Linked DNA regions of Homo sapiens: regions 1, 2 and 3 are each linked to region 4. The links come from fine-mapping of genetic effects on gene expression. A gene starts in region 4. Each other region holds a variant in brackets. All regions are shown on one strand. Distances are between the middles of the regions.

The links.
Region 1: its variant is fine-mapped to the expression of METAP1D in whole blood (TOPMed, PIP above 0.99).
Region 2: its variant is fine-mapped to the expression of METAP1D in whole blood (TOPMed, PIP 0.99).
Region 3: its variant is fine-mapped to the expression of METAP1D in whole blood (TOPMed, PIP above 0.99).

Annotation. Positions count from the first base shown.
Region 1 is chr2:172,049,140-172,054,471 of GRCh38, reverse strand. All of the region lies in intron 1 of METAP1D (methionyl aminopeptidase type 1D, mitochondrial), which reads right to left. Among named protein-coding and RNA genes, the nearest start is that of DLX1, 34 kb to the left of the region's middle. The variant G/A (reference allele first, on the strand shown) is at 2,124.
Region 2 is chr2:172,056,369-172,061,700 of GRCh38, reverse strand. METAP1D (methionyl aminopeptidase type 1D, mitochondrial) reads right to left here. Exons shown (of 10, transcript NM_199227.3): 2 at 46-203. Among named protein-coding and RNA genes, the nearest start is that of DLX1, 26 kb to the left of the region's middle. The variant A/T (reference allele first, on the strand shown) is at 3,021.
Region 3 is chr2:172,065,395-172,070,726 of GRCh38, reverse strand. METAP1D (methionyl aminopeptidase type 1D, mitochondrial) reads right to left here. Exons shown (of 10, transcript NM_199227.3): 4 at 4,975-5,123; 5 at 4,421-4,463. Among named protein-coding and RNA genes, the nearest start is that of DLX1, 17 kb to the left of the region's middle. The variant G/A (reference allele first, on the strand shown) is at 2,933.
Region 4 is chr2:171,997,704-172,003,035 of GRCh38, reverse strand. It overlaps METAP1D (methionyl aminopeptidase type 1D, mitochondrial), which reads right to left and starts at 3,083. Exons shown (of 10, transcript NM_199227.3): 1 at 3,027-3,083. The coding sequence starts at 3,066. LOC124905590 (a long non-coding RNA gene) reads left to right here and starts at 3,127. Exons shown (of 3, transcript XR_007087296.1): 1 at 3,127-3,357. RefSeq lists a silencer at 3,089-3,388.

The sequences.
Region 1 (5,332 bases), 51 kb before region 4:
TCTCGGCTCACTGCAACCTCTGCCTCCCGGGTTCAAGTCATTTTCCTGCCTCAGCCTCCCGAGTAGCTGGGATTACAGGCACCCACCACCACGTCCAGCTAATTTTTGTATTTTTAATAGAGACGGGTTTCACCATGTTGGCCAGGATGGTCTCGATCTCCTGACCTCGTGATCCGCCCACCTCGGCCTCCCAAAGTGCTGGGATTACAGGCATGAGCCACCGTGCCTGGCCAGGAGGAATGCATTTTAAATAACGAATGTTGCTGCACACAACATGCCCTATATTTATTGGCCTCTTACTCAGGGTCCATTTTAATTGTTATCTGCTCATGCATCCTATACCACATAATGAAATGCTTCCATTTCACCCACTGAGCCCTGGGTTTTCATGTGCACCTTTACTAATGACCCTTAATTAAGCTGATTTTATCCCTGAAAATGTGAGTTTTCTTTTGGTCAATAAGTATTTTTAAGGGAGAGGTCTGAATGAACTTTCAAAGAGACATTTAAAATGCTTATTATTTTAAGCAGTTGTAAAACTGAACAAAGTACATTTGTACTCAAGTTTGGACTACCAACACATATATTTTTCATTGTATGTTTCCAGGGAAGCACTTTCACCCTGCAGTGTGCCATCAATCCTCAGTTACGTTACACTGCAGAGGTATCAAATATCTGGGTAGAAAACAACACAATAATGTAGCTTGGCACTACTTTACATTAGCTAACAATGTCAACCAGAGATAATATGTGATTTAAAAGACACCCTGTAAAATGTCTTACTGAATATATTTTTTCATAATGATCAGTAAATGCCAAAGTCTAGTAACAAAACTATTATTTATAGCATGTTAACATCTAATTGATTTTACAAATGGAGGCAATTATTTTGGATGAAGAGAGGAATGCCTGCCAGATTTAAATGATTTATGATTACCAAGAGAGAAAAACAACAATGTTTTGCTAATTCATTTTCAAATATGGTTCTTACATTCATTGATGATTTTAATTTTAAACCAAATGATTTGCTTAATAATATATTAACTTTAACAAGAAAAAAAACCCAACTTACTTTGTGACAGCAATCTGATACATTTTTAACTGTTTAAAAATGTTGCCTCCTACAGTAAGCTCAGAAGGGACTATAGCATAGGAATATATTTTCGGGGTGCTGATTTAGACCCACAGAAAGATCACACTTCATGAACTCCAACCAATTACTCAGAGTAGGAGCACAGGCTCTTACAGCGCTGTGTGCTTCAAGTCCATGAGAACACTGCAAATGCATCCATGCCTTATATTTCTTGACCTAAAACACTGATTGCTTGACATGTTTCATAACTTGTACAAATGTTGCTAAAGAAAAATTAAATAGTCTGCATCACTTGATATAACTCTTTTATTGATTTTTATAATCTAGTACTAAGGTGTACGTTTCAAAATAAATGAGAAAGATTGAAGGTTCCTTCCCATCTCAAGGCAACTATAAAGCAGAAGAGAAGCTCACATTTCATGAGAAATAACCTATGCATTTGCTGAGGGAAAAAAAACCACATGCACTACTAGGGAATGCCCCAGGCTGAAGCAGATACTGATTGGGCAAAGCTAAAGGACAAGAGCCCTTGAAACTAAACAAAAGCAAATTCATCTGTTGACAGATGTTGATTACATCAAAGCAACAAGGAACTCCCCCAATTCCCAATTTTTAAAACAATTAATACAGCTCTATAATCTACACAATAAGGACAAAGTTAAGTTTTTTAACCGATCATAATAAACATTAGTGAACTTGTTTTAAAAGAGTTTCAGTTCAGTTACAGACTATTCTAGTGTGTTTTTAGCTATGGGCTTCTCCAAACAGTGGTTTATTCATTCCCATGGACATGCCTGGGAAGCCAAGCTGGCCATACCATCAGCCCCTTCCTTCCAGGGGTTAACTGCTCTGGCTGCCAAATAAAATACAGAGCGAGCCATGTAATTATGGAGACAGTCAAAGGGCAGGCTCTATTTTGAAATCTATTTGCACAGACAAGGTCTTCCAATTGAACTTACAGGAAACAAGCTGGTAAAGAGCCTCCTTTTCCCCAGATGCTTTCCACACTTTTTCTCCAATGCAGGAAATC[G/A]TGGATATGGACACCATACACCACTGCTTCCTGGATTTCAAGCTAAGATGCCATTACAGAGAGAAAAGTGGATCTGTTTCACCAACCTTTAAAAAACATTTTTTTGGCCTAATTAACAGCATTTGGCAACAGCCTCTGGATGATAAAGCCACAGTGTTTATTAAACAACATTTCTAAAGAGGATGCAGGCCCAGTTGGTATGCAGGTGTTGGAAAACAGCTCATTTTCTTTAATGCTGAAAATAAAGCACATAGTTGAATCTAAAATATGTGGGCATAATACTTGTCTGAAATAAATATTCTACTTCACATCCAACCGTGTTGTCCTTGAAGTTATTTTTACTTAAGACCACTAAAACAGTAACAAAGATCCCACAGAAATAAAAAGGAAATGTGTGCAATATTTTAAATGACAAAAAAGTCATAACTCACTTTTATGCTGAAACATAAAAGTTTATCCTAGTTGTTTACTGCTCTAAGTTTGCAATTTTTATGAGGATGCATCATTCTCATATTAAGGTAGGACTGGGTCACTACTACTAATAAAATTCACCTCAAATGAAGTTGAGATGGATACTGGTCTGTAGATGTCAGAATTCATCTACAGCCTGGGAGTCTTGGTTCTAGAAAAGATGAACTGGAAAGTCAGTCACAGAGCGCTTCTGGGGAGAGGAAGGGCAGCAGCCTGAGGGTACCCTCTTCCAATAATAACAACATTTAAGAGTGGTGCCCAGGTCACTGCAAAACGTGACCTTCCCCAAGGCCTAATCAGGAAGTTGGCGCTATACTATATACCTCCTCCTTTAAATAAAATTATCAATAGCAACTGATAGAGTATAACATCAATGACAAGTTCAGAAATGTTTTACGAAAACACTTCATTTTGCTTCTTTACAAAAGCTAAATCTGTTAATATGTGATTATTCACTAATGTACACCACCAGCACACAGGCATCTGTATTTAAAACAAGAAGCATTCCCCTCTTTTTGGGAAACTAAAACACCTCAACCTACTCTAGAAACACAGATCTATAAACATTCCTACTTAATAATATAGGCTCCTGCTTGTGAGTCTAGGAAAAAAAATTCCTTTAGGCTAGCCGAATTATAGCTGGGGGAAGGGTGCCAAAGATTATAGTCAGAACTCAAGTATAAAACTAAAAGCTGATCATTTGGTGGATAAGTAGAAGTTACATAGAAATGTTTAATTTGTACAATAGGGCTATTGCATGGAATTTCTCCATTTGAGACAAAAAAAGTTTACTTCAAAATTTAAATTCATCTTTATAAAGTATTGAGTCACAATGAAATGGTATATACTTGGCAAATCCCATTGTCTCTCAGCTAAAGTTTAGAGAAAAGCAGCTTTTTAGCACTTCAACAATACATATACTCAGGCAACTTCTTGGACAAAGAAATATTGTATCCTTACAGAGGAAATAAAGAAGCTGTTTATTAGGGCCGTGGTTAAAATGTAATAATTCATTCTAGTTGAGCCCTGTGAAAAATGTCATCAAAATATCATTTTCTTTGTCAGATTTTCTGGATGCCTTAATATCATTTAAACACAGAATAAAAGACAAGCTCTCATCAGAGTAGAAGCACAACACTAAAATGAACCAAAACCAAATGCTCTGTCAAAGTTATAGGAAAGAATTTCACACAGTCCTGCTACCCAGGGAATGCACACTTCTAGGTTAGCACAGAACATCTGGCAAATTTCAACCTTCCAAAGTCTCTCAAAAGAAACATTCCTGTTACCTCACACACTTTGGTTAAAGAAGAGGAAAATAGAATGATTTTATATTAAAGCACACAAATCAGAACCAGAAAGAGCAATTTCATAGGAATCACACATGGAACTGAATTTTAGAGAAAGTCTATATAAAAACATCATGAGTTTTTTAAAAAAAAACTGATATAGTAACAAAATCCTTCTTTAATTCTTAAAAAAACCTCCAGACTATTCATAAATACTACTGTCATATACTACTTAAAATATTAGTTATTTTGTATTAAAATGCCCAATAACAGAAGATATGAGGGCTTATAATCTATGATCAAAAGCACAGCTTTAATATATTTTTAAATTACATTAAAGCATTTGAAAAGAGCATGATTTTAGTCTTCATATTACAATAGTGTCAACTGAATTCTAGATACAGCATGCCCTAGGTATATTGCTGGATGTCTTTCTTTCCTTTTTTCTTTTCAATGGGCCATTGAAAGTTATTGCCACACAAGCAAACCATTGGGATGAAATAGCTCAGAGCTTTGACCAAAATTGTAGTATCAATATCAAAAACAAATAAGACAAAAAACAAAAAACCCTACATCTTAAACTTCCTGAGAAGATTTTCACTGTACATCTCTAAGTGAAAGGCATGGGATAGAAAGAAAACATTTGAATATCAATCTTATCGTGGTATTTTGACAACTGTAGGAGTTTTGTCTCTGCCCTGTAACCAGTCAATAGGAGTGGTAAATCGGTAGGTAGATAGGTCAATAATTACTACCTAAAATGAGAAAGCTAATGCTTCAGGAAAACAATATATTTCCAAGCTTCTGCAGTTGAGAGTACACAGATTCAAGACAACAGAAGCCAAGATCACTCATCAAGGAGTTATTTTCAACCAGAAAAATAAAGAGAAAGTATACAGTAACCTCTTTAGTAAAAGCAAAAGCTCCAAATTTTCTGAAGGCAGCTTTTTGGACTGGTATAGTTATGTTGCCCAAATAATTTTACACTCAATTCTACTAGGTATACCTGGTTGACCATATGAATACTCACTCGACAGTTTTTGGTATTAATTCAAAAAGTACAAAGTGTTAAAATGGCACAGGCTTAAAAGGGGAGCTCCATAGATGCCTGCTTACAATTTGGCCCATATATATGTGTATGTGTGTGTATATGTATATAAGTAAACATAAATATAAATATGTATATAAGTAAATATATGTATATAAGTAAACATAAATATAAATAAACATTTATTTAAATATATATACTTATATATTTAAGGATATGAATGTTCAACTATCTGTTACTTTTTGTACTAAAGATTAAAAATTAAGCCAGGCTGACGCCTATAAACCCAGCACTTTGGGAGACTAAGGCCTGTGAATCGCTTGAGTCCAGGAATTTGAGACCAGCCTGGGAAACATGGTGAAACCTTGTTTCTACAAAAAATACAAACATTAGCCAGGCAT
Region 2 (5,332 bases), 59 kb before region 4:
TTTATCTTGGCTGGAAAAAGCAGGAGATAATAGGCAATACAGTACCTTAGGAACCGGATGAGCTGAAGAAACTGCAGCCGGCAAAACTATACTGTGTGAAATATCTCTTTGTCTCCGAAAAAAGAAATTTCTTCTTTGTTGACTGCTTGACTGCTTGTGTAAGTAGATATGATTGAGTGGTGAAGAGAAAATTCTATGAGAACCTGTGAGCAGAAACAGACATATTTTAAGTAAAAAAACAACCTAACACAGTCCTCCACTTTAAGATGTTGTGGTGTTGTCTATTAAATCATTATTCTAATACCTTATTGACTGAAAAAGGAAAAGCCCCAAATAGAAATGAAAACAGTGGTATTCTGAATTCTAGTACAATAGTAACACAGCGTATTTATTAGCTAATACTATGTTTACATAAATGCGTGACAATGGAAAACTCTACTCTAACGGGAAACAAACATATAGAAACATCTGCTAAGCACCAGGTCTGTAAAAAGAACAATTTCTGCTGTAATACCTTATGTGGCAATGTCCAAGACGACCCTAGATTCAGGGCACTGTTTTGATGGCTTTATACTCTGTAAAGCCGTTTCCTTTCAAGAATCACGGACAAATTGCCAGCTGCACTTTTTGCCCTCCATAGGATTACTACTCTGTGTTAAGTTCACGTGCAGTGAGGCATTATACTGAAATTCATTGTGATGAATGTTCAAGTCAGATAAAGACTAAATAGCAAAAATGTAAGTATAACACTGAAAGAAAATGAATATAGGGTTTGAAGTACTCACAACAGGAATTTAGAAATGTCTATCAAAATTTTAAATGCACATATCCTTTGACTCAGCAGTTCATCTCCTAGGACTTTATCCTGCAGACACTATGCACTGATGGATGAATGAAGATGTACCCTCATGGCAGCATTATTTGTGGTAGAAGAAAGTGGGAAACAACTCAAATGTTTCCAAATAGGAAATACCAGTAGGGGACTGATTAAATATATTATGGTATACTTACAGAAAATTCTGGAGCTATTAAAAAGAATAGGCTAAATCATCATCTCTATGTGTTGATATGGAAAGAGGTCACAATACACTGTTAGGAAAAAAGTGAATGCTTAACAAATACATATAAAAAGCCCATTAATGTAAAAGGAGCTTATACATTTATATAAGCTTGCACGTGCTCATAAAATTTCTGGAAATTGATATTTGTAAACAGTGGCTCTTTCTGTGGCTTGTGGTTGGGGCTAGAGGTAGAGAGGAAGACTTTTTTTTTTTTTTTTTTTTTGAGACAGGGTCTTGCTCTGTCGCCCAGGCTAAGGCAACAGTGGTGCGATCATGGTTCACTGCAGCCTTGGATTCCCAGGCTCAAGGAATCCTCCCACTTCAGCCTCTTGAGTAGCTGGAACCACAGGCACATGCTACCATGCCTGGCTAATTTTTGTATTTTTTGTAGAGATGGGGTCCTGCTATGTGGCCCAGGCTGGTTTTAAACTCCTGGGCTCAAGCGATCCTCCCACCTCGGCCTCCCAAAGTGTTGAGGTTACAGGCGTGAGCTACTGCATCCAGCCAGGAAGACATTTTGATTCATTTTATTACTTTCATATTTAGAACAATCTTTTTTTTGTTTTTTGTTTTTTGGTTTCTTTTTTTTGAGACGGAGTCTCACTCAGTCGCCCAGGCTGGAGTACAGTGGCGCGATCTTGGCTCACTGCAACCTCCGCCTCCCAGGTCCAAGCAATTCTCCTGCCTCAGCCTCCAGAGTAGCTGGGACTGCAGGCGCGCACCACCAGGCCCGGCTAATTTTTTTGTATTTTTAGTAGAGACGGGGTTTCACCATGTTGGCCATGCTGGTCTCAATCTCCTGACCTCGTAATCTGCCCGCCTTGGTCTCCCAAAGTGCTGGGATTACGGGCGTAGCCACCGCGCCTGGCCAGAACAATAGTTTTAGAAGTCCCCAACAGGTCACAACTACATGGCAGGGGTCAGAAAACTACAGCTCAAGGGCCAAATCTGGACTGCTGACTGTTTTTATACAGCACAAAACCTAAAAATGGTTTTTACATTTATAAATGGTTGAAAAAAACTTTTTAACCCAATATTTTGTAATACATGAAATTCAAATCTTGGTGCCCATAAATAAAAGGTTCATTGGACCATAGCTACCCTCATTTGCTTACAAATGTCTATGGAGGATTTTGAGCTACAGTGGTAGCTGAGTAGTTGTGAACACATGTTCCACAGAGCCTAAAAAATGTACTCTTTGGCCCTCTACAGGAGACATTTGCTGAATCCTGGTCTAGAGCAGTAGTCCTTAAAATGAGGTTCACAGACCAGCAGTATAATGTCACATAGAAAAAAGATGCAAGGCTGAGTGCGGTGGGTCACGCCTGTAATCCCACACCTTGTCTCTACTAAAAATACAAAAATTAGCCGGGCATGGTGGCGCGCGCCTGTAATCCCAGCTACTCGGGAGGCTAAGGCAGGAGAACTACTCGAACCCGGAAGGCAGAGGGTGCAGTGAGCCAAGATCGCGCCACTGCACTCCAGCCTGGGTGACAGAGCAAGACTCTGTCTCAGAAAAAAAAAAAAAGAAAGAAAGAAAGAAAAAGAAAAAAGATGCAAATTCTTGGGCCCCGTATCGACCTACAAACATAGAAACTGGTGATGGAGGCGGGCAATCTGTGCCTTAACCAGCCCTCAGGTAATCCTGACGCACACGAAGCTTGAGAACTGGCCTAGAGTAACATTTCAGCTGTGAAACATAATGAAAACGTGAATTGCAGGTAAGTACTGGCTTCAAAACTCTGGATCTCTAATTGACTTGGGGAAAGGCACTGATGCAAACAAACCGCAATGATCAGTGATTCAGGGTGATAGGTTTCACTCAATTATGTCCCTCCTTAAAGTGGACTGCAATATTGTTGAATCTAACTTATAGAGGTGTTTTTGGTACTATTTTAAACAATTTCAAGCACTAGACAAAATGTCAGTAATATCATTTCTTTAAAAAGAAGTTACAAA[A/T]CTCAGGTACAGTGGCACATACATGTAGTCCCAGCTACTTTGGAGGGCAGCTGATGTGGGATTGCTTAAACCCAGGAGTCTGAGACCAGCTTGGGCAACAAAGCAAGACTCCTGTCTCTCTAAAAAAAAAAAAGTTGCTTGATAGAGGCAGGTATGTATTGTGTAAAGCTTTTAAAGTATAATATTTCCCTAATGACAATATCACCAACCCTAGTATTGTCAACTGATATATGAGGGACAGGGTAGTGTCCTAGGAAAAGCAGACAGTTGGAAGGCAGAAGCCTGGACTTTTGTTTCAGCTCTACCACTTATTAGCTGTGTGGCCCTGCACAAGTTTCTTCATTTCAGTCTCAGGTGAGAATTGAAATAAGAAATGTGAAAGTGTCTTGCATTTAGAAGATACCCAATAAATAATAGTTCTTTCAAGAATACATAAAAACCTGTAATCCCAGCGCTTTGGGAGGTCGAGGTGGGAGGATCGTGAGATCCCATCTCTACAAAAAATAAAAGAATTAGCCAGATGTGGTGGCTTGGGCCATCAGCTACTGTAGTCCAGCTACTCAGGAGTTCAGCTACTCAGGAGTCAGTCCAGCTACTCAGGAGTCCAGCTACTCAGGAGGCTGAGGCAGGAGAATCACTTGAGCCCTGGAGCTATGATCACTGAGTTATGCACTGAGCTATGATCACACCACTGCACTCCAGCCTGGGCAACAGAGTAAGATCCTGTCTCAAAAAAAAAAAAAAAGTCTGCACAAAAAATAAAATGGGAAAGAAAACATGACCTCCAGTATAGCTTCTAATACTGAACACTTATTATGCCTCAATTACTGTACTAGGCACTTTACATATGTTAGCTCATTAATCTTCACAGAAACTGTATGAATTGTGAACTGTTATTACTCCATGTCACAGTTGAAGATACTGAGGCACACAAAGGAACATGCAGTAAGTGCCAAAGCTGAGAGGGAAAGCAGGCTAAGTTGCCTCTACAAAATGTATTACTTCTCTCACAGGCATGAGAAAAAACAGGAGCTAAAACACAGGGAAATACCCAGAAAATTGAAAAGGCATCACAAAACTATTGTTACTACTACTATTATTTTTCCAAAAGTGGTGATGGGTTGGCCTAATCCACCCACTACCTTAAGCCAAGCTGCCTTCGCTGACCAAACACACGCTTTGGGGAGGTGGCTGCCAGAACTATTAGTTGGACAGTCTGTGGATATGAAATGGAAAATTTGGAAAGACACAGGTGGACTCAATCTATGATTCCACCTCCCTAATTGCATTGCTAGGCAGGACCACATACAAGACACAAACTCACAAGTGTTTCTCTTCTGAGGAAAGTATTATAATTACTATTAATAATGATAATGCTAATATAAATAGTAATAATAACAGTGGTTAAAATTTAATGGACACTTAGATTAAGCTCAGTGCTAGGTGCTCTACATACATTACCTCTTACCAGCTCTGTCATTAGGCAGGTAGCTGTTAACATCACTGCTTTATAGATGAGGAACTAAGGCTCACAAGTCTGGTAATCAATGACCAGGCCCCAAGCTTAATCCTGTAAATCCAAATCCAGGGCTGTGTCTGCCATTCCAGTTGCCTCTCAGCAGTGTGCAGGGGCTCTATGAGTTCTATTCGCTAGTGTGTTTTGTTACATAATGTATTCTTTCAGGGACTAGATTTCAAGGTCAGTTTTTTTTATCATGAAAAATGTAAATATCATGTAACTAGTTAGCATTTAGAATGAAGACACTTTTCATGAAAATTCTTAGAAATGATCCAGTTGGGAGGCACTATGGTAGTGACAACAGCATGAGCTTGGAGGTCAAACAGGTGTGAGTTACCAAAACTTCTGAGACTCATTTTCTTCACTATTAAATGGGAGTAGTAGTGCTCTCCCTACCACGAGCTGATGTGAGCATTTGCTGAGATAACATAAATAGGTAAACCATCTTTTAAAAAATAGGTGCTCCATAAATGCTCCTTTCTTTTCCTTTTCCTTCTCCATTCTTCAACATGTTTACCTGTGGGGTCTCTAAATGCCTTCATTCATTCAACAACTACTTAATGAACTCATTGCATGTGCCATGCTCTGGATTAGAGAATTCAGTGGTGAATGAGGTGACAAGGTCCCGACTCCCAGGGAGCTTACATCCTTGTAGTGGGAGGCAGACATAGGCAAATCAACAAATGCATTTGATTACATCAGACAGTGCTATGCATGATGAAAAAATAACCAAAGTGGCACAGCATTGGACAGAAAGTTCTACCCCTGGTCCTGCTAAGAGCTATGTGATCTT
Region 3 (5,332 bases), 68 kb before region 4:
AGCCATGCAATGATATTGCAAAATTTAAAAACAACTATGTTAACTAGTATGGTTATTTCAGCATTATGATGAACAATACTACTGTAATATTTTGATTCCTCACTTTATTTCTGAGAAGACAAAATTATATAAGCAAAAATTAGTAGCCAAAGACCTTGATCTACAATTACCACAACAGGTTTAGAGAACCAAAAAGTATTTAACATAGTGAAAAGTTTCTTCAATGTCATGAAGACTTACTTGATTTTGTATTTACCAGTTCTACATTTGAAGTGATATATAATGACAAGAAGAAGTAAGATAGACATGTCTGTATTCTAACAAACAAATAGGAGAATTCAGTTCTAAGAATTGAAGTGGTTCCATATAGGAATGAAATGTGTTACAGAAAAATCCTATGTCTAGAAGTGAAATCTTAATCAAATGTTCCAGACAGCCGAACGTTAACAGAAAGCACTATATATGGATATCTAAAGAATTAGAATATAATAAAACAAGCTTAAAAGCACAATTACAGAAAGTATAATTTTATCAGTCTTCAGTGATTCAGAAGCCAAGTAGGATCTTGAAAGATACCAGATTCATTATAAATCATTGATAACCAAGCACTATAGTAAATATAAAAGGCAGAGGCAACTGTTTGGATACTGATCCTTTGATGTAGCATGGAATTTGCTACTTTGCATAAATTTGTCCTATCTAATTATTTTTCACATTTCTCTTGCTCATAAGGTAGAATGTAGAAACTGTTATAAAAAAGATGTTTATATGAGCTTTCAGTCTGTTGTGATACTGAATTAATGTCTTAAATCTGTATACTACTCTGCATTTCTTAAAAAATGCTCTCATATTCTGTGAAGGAAGCAAGAAAGGTCTTTATTAGATCTTCAGTTTATAATTCAGGAAACTGAGGCACAGATAAGTAACTTGTTTAAGGTTGGTGGCAGAATATAGAGGTAGATTCAGGTTAATATGATGGATTATTGGCTTCTAATCGAGTGTTTTCTCTACTATATCAAATTATCTTAATTACCTTGCAACAGAATAGTGTTTTATACATTTACTCCCACTTACAGTCCTTTGCAATCCAGGAAAGTATGAGTTTTTATTTTATACACTTGGCAGTATTTCACTTTGCTTCATAGGTTTTACAATTTTGAAATAGTTTGAATGTTAATAATGAAACTATTAAAAGTCTTCAGGAAACTTAGAAAAGGAATAGAGTATTCTCTTTGGACACATTGGAAACAGTAGGGAAGACTATGCTGATTTCGTTCAAAAATTCAAATTTTTATATTCTTATATTTCATTCAAAATACAAGAATACTATTTCAAAATACAAAATACGATTTCATTCAAAATACAAGAATATAAAATTTGCTAATATAGGCGTAGTCAAGAAAATGTATAAATGAATGTTTATATAACTGCTTTTTAAGTAAAAATGTACTATTTTAAAAAATCTTTATTCATCTTTTCATATTACTTTTTCCTAGCTTTGAAAATGATTACTTGAGGCTGGGTGCAGTAGCTCACGCCTGCAATCCTTTGGGAGGCTGGGATGAGAGGATTGCGTGAGACCAGGAGTTTAAGACCAGCTTGGGAAACATAGTGAAACCCCATCTCTACAAAATTAAAAAATTAACCAGGTGTGGTGGCACACGCCTGTAGTTCTAGCTACTTGGGAGGCTACGGTAGAAGGATCACTTGAGCCCAGGAGTTCAAGCTTACAGTAAGCCATGATGGCACCACTGCACTGCATCCTGAGTGACAGAGCAAGACCCTATATCTGAAAAAGTAAAAAAAGAAAAGGAAACAAAGAAAAAGAAAAAGAAAGGAAGGGAGGAAGGGAGGGAGGAAGGGAGGAACGAAGGAAGGAAGGAAGGAAGGAAGGAATATCAAAATGACTATTTGAGACTGGTGCAGTGGCTCACACCCATAATTCCAGCACTTTGGGAGGCGGAGGTGGGCGGATCACTTGAGGTCAGGAGTTCAAGACCAGTCTGGCCAACATGGTAAACCCAGCCTCTACTTAAAATACAAAAATTAGCTGGGTGTGGTGGCGTGTGCCTGTAGTCTCAGTTACTGGGGAGGCTGAGGCAGGAGAATCACTTGAACCCTTAAGGCGGAGTTTGCAGTGAGCTGAGATCCTGCCATTGTGCTCCAGCCTGGGCAACAGAGGGAAACTCCGTCTGAAAAAAAAAAAGACTACTTAAAAGATTCACTATATACAGAAATACAATACTTTTGAAAGTCTGTGGCAGTCATCTACAATTTCTATTTATACCCATAAACTAGTACTTGTACTTCATTTATTTATTTATTTATTTTTTGAGACAGAGTCTCGCTCTGTCACCCAGGCTGGAGTGCAGGGGCGCGATCTCAGCTCACTGCAACCTCTGCCTCTCAGGTTCAAGCAATTCTCCCTGCCTCAGCCTCCTAAGTAGCTGGGATTAGAGGCTCCTGCCCCCACACAGGGCTAATTTTTATATTTTTAGTATTTTTAGTAGAGATGGGATTTCACCATGTTGGCCAGGCTGGTCTTGAACTCCTGACCTCAGGTGATCCGCCTGCCTTGGCCTCCCAAAGTGCTGGGATTTCAGGCATGAGCCACTGCGCCTGGCCCTTGTACTTCATTTAACAAATATTTATTGAGCAACTACTATGGACATCGCATTGTCTTTAAGAAAAACATTTTTCAGTTTTAAAGGGGGGAAGGAAATCTAATTTCTTGTGATGTATACTAGACGTCAATAATTCTAAGATGCAATGAGTATTTTCTGATAGAAACATAGGATCTGATAATGGAGTCCTTCACTTAATAAAATATTTTATAAGAAATATAATTTGTTAAGATATGGACCTATATGTTTCCTAGATTCCTTCACATTTCTAGACACTTGGAAATATTTCACTTTGCTTTATAAGTTTT[G/A]CAATTGTGAAGTAATTTGAATGTTAAATACAAAACTGTTTATTAAGTATTCAGGAAACTTAGAAAAGGAATAGAGTATTTTCTTTGGACACACTGGAAACAGTAGGGAAGAGTAGTTGATTTCATTCAAAACATTAAAATGGTAACATTTCATGATAGGGTGACTAGATGAGAAAATAGATGTAAAACCGTAAAATCAGGTACAATCCAAAATAAAAGTGTCTCATGAAAAGAACTCTGTTTTAGGTATACTTCATAAAATACCTCCTTCCACATGATTCTGAGTTGGAAAGATACCAACAGGATGTATGTGGTGCAAGTGTTCAAGCATTTTAAGTAGGATAAAATGATACAGGAAATAGCATCAGCAATGAAAGAATCGTTGGCTATCTCCTCATATGATTGATATGAAGAAAAAAGGTTTAGTTAACTTAAACTAAAAGTCAGACTGAATTCCACCATTGGATTCCTATTTTTATCTCATTCCCACTCCTACTTCAGTTTCATGGTCTAGATACTATTCTTAAAAACACTTCCTTATTAATAGAAATTGTATTCCCTGAATATTGTCATTTCAACTAGTTCTCCTAAGATGTTTAAATTTTGTTTATTTATTTAAAATGTATTTGTTAATCATTAGATGTACAGAATTTATTTATAATCTAGGTAATCCAAAGGTATCATTACAAAATTCTTTAATAAACAGAAATGTAAAAGCACATATAATCCAAGTCTGAGAATGGTAAAAGGCTAAGAAAATGAGAAAAAGCTACATCTTGTACAATTTGAAGTCCCTATGATAAATTACTTAGGCTTGTTACTTAAAAGAAAGGCTATTAACCATTTGGTGAAAACTTAAGTTCAGACAAAAAAACCACTCTGCTTACTTTGAGCACAAGGCTCTCTATACCAGAAATGGAACTCAACGTTACCTTCAGGGATTTTAATAAATCTAGGGAACACTGCTAGCAAAAGAGTTGCTGTCCAAATAGACTGACATACACAGGCCAATGTAGCCCCTAATGACAGAGTAAGATAATGACAGGCCCCACTCAAAATCAGCAGGAAGAGGAAGATCAATCTTGGCAGAGTGAAGGAAAAATGCTGGCTTTCTTCGTGTTAGCTCATCTCATACATATCTAGCTTCAGCAGCTGCCCAGTGCTGTGGTGCTCTGCGTTAACTACACAGTGGATCAATAACAATTACACCTTCTCAAAAACATGACACATAGCAGGATTGGGTTGACATTTCACTTAGGCCAACATTGATCTCAGTGCATCTGATTGCAGCCCTAAATTCAAGTCAGGCCTGGGTTTACTTGGAATAAACACAGAGTTAAAGACAAAAAAGGAAACCAGCTGCTTGCGTCTGGGTCTAGAAGTAAACAGCACTTCCACTGGTGCAGTTCACATTTTCAATCCACTCTTCCTGTTGCTACCAGCAATTCTGAAGTTGATCAAAGACAATTTTTTATATGATTTACTCACTGTGACATCAATGTTGATAATATCTCCATCCTGAAGAGGTCGACTAAAACGTAAACAGAAAAAAAAATGGTGATAGACAGATCTCAATAAAAGGAAAATAAAAATAAATACTTAATGACTACTGTCACAAACCCAATGGGATGCAGTGATAATTTGGAGTGAAGGAGGACTACACAGGATAACTAAATCTAATCTTTATTTCAAAAGATGCACTTAATTTATTACCTTAATTTTGCCAAGAACCAAAACAAGAGTTGATAAGAAAAATTTGCCACATTTGAATTTTACCACTTATATGATTAAAATCTAAGAAGTAAAAGACATACGTAATGCACAACCCCCATTTAGATTATGCACTGCTTTAACAAACATTAAATGGTGGTGGTGTATCCATTTAGAAGTAAAATACTTCAAAATTTCTGTTTTATCATAATCAATTTCAGAAGTTTACCGGTGGGTTTCAATTGAATGATAGTGTCTTTCAACATATGTTACAGATCTTAGCTTCATGTTTTAGTTTCCAAAGGAACAATATGTTATTAAGAACTGAATACCTGTCAGGAATACCATGACAGAGCACGTTGTTTACAGAGGTACAAACAGATTTTGGAAAACCTCCATAGCCTAGAGGTGAGGGATAGGCATTATGACTGATGATTTCCCGATGAACAAGAGCATCTATCTCTTCAGTTGTCATGTCAACCTAAAATGTTAAATAAAGAAATTGTGCAGCAACAATTGAAGACATTTCTTGTATTTATCAACTATGCTATAGCAACAGTACTTCCATGTGAGACTGTATAAATTTACTATGATAAAGTTATGGTACAACATTTGAATTAATTATGATTAGTGTTAGAATCCTCAACTGTGCCTTGTGGACAATCATTTGGGCATATGATGGTGTTATGG
Region 4 (5,332 bases):
AAAGATACATAAGACAAAGCTTCTGTTCAACAAGAATTAATAATCTAGTAAGGAGCAGAAATGGTGAGAGGAGCTAGGTAACTACTGTATATAGGGTATACTGTGACCAAAGCCACAATGAGTTGAGGCGTCACAAGAGAAACCTCATGCCTTTTTTAAAAGGTTAAAAAAAAGTCTTCCTCTATTTCAAGAAGAAATGATGCTCATAAATGCTGATAATAAATCCTGGTACATGAAGACTTGTAATGGATTGCTTTACATAAATCTAGATGGGTGAAAGGGAGGAAGAGGGTGGAGAGAGGAGTCTTCGTGAATTTACCCTTCATTTTCAATTCTTGGGGGTGGGGAGCAGGAAAACCTCTCTGCAATTTAAAACTAGCTATGGGTAGTCCAAAAAGGGGCCCTTTCTCCATCATTAAAATAGCTTCCTGATGACACATTTTTCTTCTCTCCTCTAATCAGAGGATCCACTTCTTGGTTGTTGCAACACTTTGGGATACAGTGGGATGGATTATAGGAACCAATAACTTGGCCTGACTTCCATATAATATATTTTCTCAAGACTGTCTAAACCACCATTTGTCAAAATAATAAGTGATCAAAAAGAAAGAAAAGATTAATGCTATTTCTGTTATCTGCAAAGAGATGTTATATATACAGTTGGTGCAAAGTAATCACAGTTTTTGTCATTGATTCTAAAACTGCAATTACTTTTGTACCAACCTAATACATATATACACACATATAAAAATACGTTTATACATGCATAGGTGTATATATATATACATACATACACCTATGTATGTTTTCAGGTTGTTTTTTTTTTGGCTCCTCCTCTACATTGACTATCTCCTCAGATCCTTCTCACCATTACCTGAAGCATACAAAAATGAAGTCTAAAAGCCATGATTTCTTGTGAAAAGAGGAAACAGAAAAGTAATTAGTAAAGAAAGTTTGGACTGGAACCCAGATCTTTTTTTTTTTTTTTTCAGCTCACTACAACCTCCGCCTCCTGGGTTCAGGCGATCCCTCCCACCTCCACCTCCCAAGTAGCTGGGATTACCAGCATGTGCCACCACACCTGGCTAATTTTTGTATTTTTAGTAGAGACAGGTTTCACCATGTTGGCCAGGCTGGTCTTGAACTCCTGGCCTCAAGTGATCTGCCCGCCTTGGCCTCCCAAAGTGCTGGGTAATATTACAGGCATTAGCCACCTTGCCAGGCCTGGCACCCAGATCTTGAGAGATGTAAATTGGCTGTCTTTTCACAAGGCTACACTCTCATGCTGATGTCCATTCCTTCATGCAACCAGTCCAAAATGCTCGCTACATCACCTTCCCCATACACATCTCTCCCCTCAAATCTTCCTGTGGCCCCTTTCTCATCTCCACTAACACTGAAATACTGAAGTCTATTCGATTACCAACCTTCTTCCTCTCTAAAAATATCTTCCTCTTCACTTCTTATTTTTTATTATTTTTATTTATTTTTTTTTTCTGAGACGGAGTCTCGCTCTGTCGCCCAGGCTAGAGTGTAGTGGTATGATCTCAGCTCACTGCAACCTCCACCTCCTGGGTTAAAGCAATTTTCCTACCTCAGTCTCCCGAGTAGCTGGGATTACAGGCATGCGCCACCACGCCCAGCTAATTGTGTATATTAGTAGAGACGGGGTTTCACCATGTTGGCCAGGCTGGTCTTGAACTTCTGACCTCAAGTGAGCCACCTGCCTCGGCCTCCCAAAGTGCTGGGTTTACAGGTGTGAGCCACCGTGCCCAGGCTCTCTTCACTTTTTGTACACACTCATCCTGCACTGTCTCTGCTGAACTTTACACACTGACTTCTATGGAGTGACCACGTCATGCAGTACCGAGAAATGAGTCTTAAAAAAAAAAATTAGAGTCATGTTCAAATGAGCAATCTGCCTCTTACCATTTATGCGACCTTAGTAATGTTACTTAACCTCTCTAGCCTTACTTTTCCCTTCTGCAAAGAGAAAATAATTCCTAACTCACTGGGTTTTTGTTTTTGTTTTTGAGACAGGGTCTGGCTCTATTGCCAAGTCTGGAGTTCAGTGGTACGATCACGGCTCACTGCAGCCTCTTGACCTCCCAGGCTCAAGCGATCCTACCACCTCAACCCCCAGAATAGCTGAGACTACAGGCATGTGTCACCACGCCCGACTAATTTTTAAAATTTTTTGTAGAGACGGGGTCTCATTCATTGAGTTTTAAAAGGAAGCAAGCATATGTAAGGCGCTTAACACAGTATCGTGTACTTAAAAGGCACTTAATAAACAGTAGCTGTTACTATGAAAATAATATTTACCTCACAAAACTGTTCCTACATGCCTGACGCTTAAGTAGCTCCTCAAAATATGATAGTTTTCCTCTTCCCCCGTCCTTGGAAAAACTTTCTAGTTCTTTCCAACAAAGATTCAGCACCTAGTTCAAATCCAACAAAGATTTCCCCAATTCTGCTGCAAAGGCATTTGTATATTTACTAAAATCTCAACACTCACGCAGGATAAAACCTACTTAGAACTACCCAGACATCCTTTCTTATCTTCTTAACTTTAAGTCACTGGAAGAAAACCATCACATTTTGCAAGTCCCCAAAAAGCATGCCTGCATAAAAGCTCTAGGGAAGGGAACCGGGTGTCCAGATGCATTTCAGAATTACCATAGGTTTCCTTGCTCGGCATACAGAATAAATGTTGGTTACACTAATGATACAACCGAAGTTGGGGAAAAAAACTTCAGACAATGGCCCGCAAATCTCAAGGAGTAATTGCGAAAAGATGCCACGTGGTGACGTGTTCTAGGCGGGTGATCAGTGAACAAATTTGTATGTGTGATCCTGTGGTGTGTGAATGTGTCATCGTGTGTGCCTGCGTGTGTTCGTAAACACTGAAAGTACAGTCGTGTGCGCCGAGAAGTCTGAGCGCGGGTGCGCATCCCTTTGGACCCGGGTGCGTACCTAGTGAGCAACCGTGCGAACCCTCACGGGGCTCTCCTCCACGCGCTTACCTCTGCGGACGAGCAGGTGGACGCCACTGGGCGCCGCCATGTTGGCGTCGGTCACGTGGCCGCGAGCACTCGCTCGCCGCCCCGCCCGCTGGAGCCGGCCAGTCGCAGCCCTGCCGAAGCCCTGAGGCGTCGAGGCCGCCCGAGGGGAGCGCGCGTGCGCGCGCGGGGCTGACTGCGGGAGCCCTGGCTGGGAAGCGGCTAGGGCACCCGGGCAAGCAGCAGAACCCGCGGCCGGCTGAGTCCTCTCCAGCCGCGAGAGGCGGGCTCCAGCCGCGGCTCGCGCGCTCGCTCTGAGCCCCCGCGCCCAGGTGGGATGGAAGAAGCCTGTCAGGTAAGCGTGGCATCCAATATTTATAGCATCAACATTTTGGTGCATGGAAACGTGAAGTTGGGCGGAAAAAATAAAGCACAATCTAGTGTTCAACATAGCACTTTGTATCGTCTGCCACTCTGTTGCAAATTATTCCCCTGGATTCAGTTGAAAGGTAAAATTTGGTTCAAAGTCACCAGCTCCCCTTTTGCTGTCCCAGAATCTACATTACTCAGCAGAGACTCCAGACAACACAGGATCTGTGTGTCGCTGCAAAATCTATTCTAGGTACCCCAGTGGGTATGTTCAGGAGACTTCTCTTTCTCCAAGGACGCCTTCTGCTTGGCAGTATTAACTGGAGTCTTAATCCTAAATTTGGAGTTTAAGTATAAAAGGATGACGCCTGCCAATTGCATTGCCAAGAGAAGAAGCCTACAGAAGGCCAATTGTGAATCAGATGAGGGAGCTGATGTATGCCTACTGATGACGGTGCCCATTTTTACCAAATTCACTGTCTCTCTTACCTGTGTTCTGGGGTAGATGCCATCCTGTCATGGACCAGGTGTTATTCATCTTAGTAGCCTCCGTGCCCGGCACAGAACCCGATACCCGAGGAATGTCAGGTGAAGCAATTGAACACTGCATGAAACCAGTCAAACTGAGAATGTAACCGTTTCCAGACTTTAAATGCAGTGAAGATTGATTAGGATTCTCAGTGAATGTGTGTGATGTCTTCTAATTAATTTTTAAGCACTACACACTCAGTGAATAATCTAGACAATTCAGAACAATTCAGAAATAAGGAACAAGTGCAAGCCCCTTCCTCGCCCTCTGTACATACCATAGTCCCACTCCCCAGTTAACCACCGTGTGCTCAATTGAGATCTTTGCCTTTTACACACAGGCAAATGTAAGTATTTTAAATAGAATCATATGACTTGCTTTTTCCATTCCAGTCATCATAGGCATCAAATCTTAGAACACTTAGTTCAGACTTATTCTTTTTAATGACTATATAATCTTGATATTTTTACTTTTAAAGAGAGTGAATGTTGGCATTTCATTAGAGGACACATGCTATAATTCTGGAAAACCTGGTTTTGGATGCTTTTGGGTCACCTTGAAAGATAAAGAGAAGTAATGCTTTCCATCAGGGTAAATAAGATGCACAAGAATGAGAATAAAATGTACTCCTACCTTTTGCAAACTCATTTCAATTCCAGGGAGAGCATTTTTGAATGTGGCAAATCTGTCCTCTGTGTAACTGAGGCCAGCAATCTGAGTGCAGCAAAGGAGCCTGAGAGTTAGCTGGCCACAGAGTCTTAAGCAGTGTACAGAAAAAAGAAATCTAGACATCCCTATTCCTTAAGGCATCAAGCCTAGTTTCAAACCCATCTGAAATAGAACACATGTTCATGTGACTTAACTCAGCCAACCCTTGGAAAATAAATGAATGCTTTATTCCCCTACAACTAAAAGGAAAAGGAAACACTATGAGGACCCAGGTGGCACCAGCAGTAGTGGAATCCAGTGAGGAAATCCTCAATAAGTTCGGCATGGAATGTAGATATCTGGGATGAGCTAGAAATGAAGCAAATATGAACTTGCACAGGTGATAGCTCATCCACTGACCCTGGATCTGGCTTCTCTCATACACATCCTTCTCACCGCAGAAGGGTTAAAAGCTGCCAGCACATGTCCGCCAAAACCATCAACTTATGGGATATAAGCTGGGTGTGGTGGCTCATGCCTGTAATCCCAGCACTTTGGGAGGCGAACGCAGGCAGATCACTTGAGGTCAGGAATTCGAGACCAGCTTGGGCAACATGGTGAAACCTGTCTCTACTAAAAATACAAAAATTAGCCAGGCATGGTGGTGCATGCCTGCAATCCCAGCTACTCAGAGGCTAAGGCGGGAGAATCACTTGAACCTGGGAGGCAGAGTTTACAGTGAGCCGAGATCCTGCCACTGCACTCCAGCCTGTGCCACAGAGGA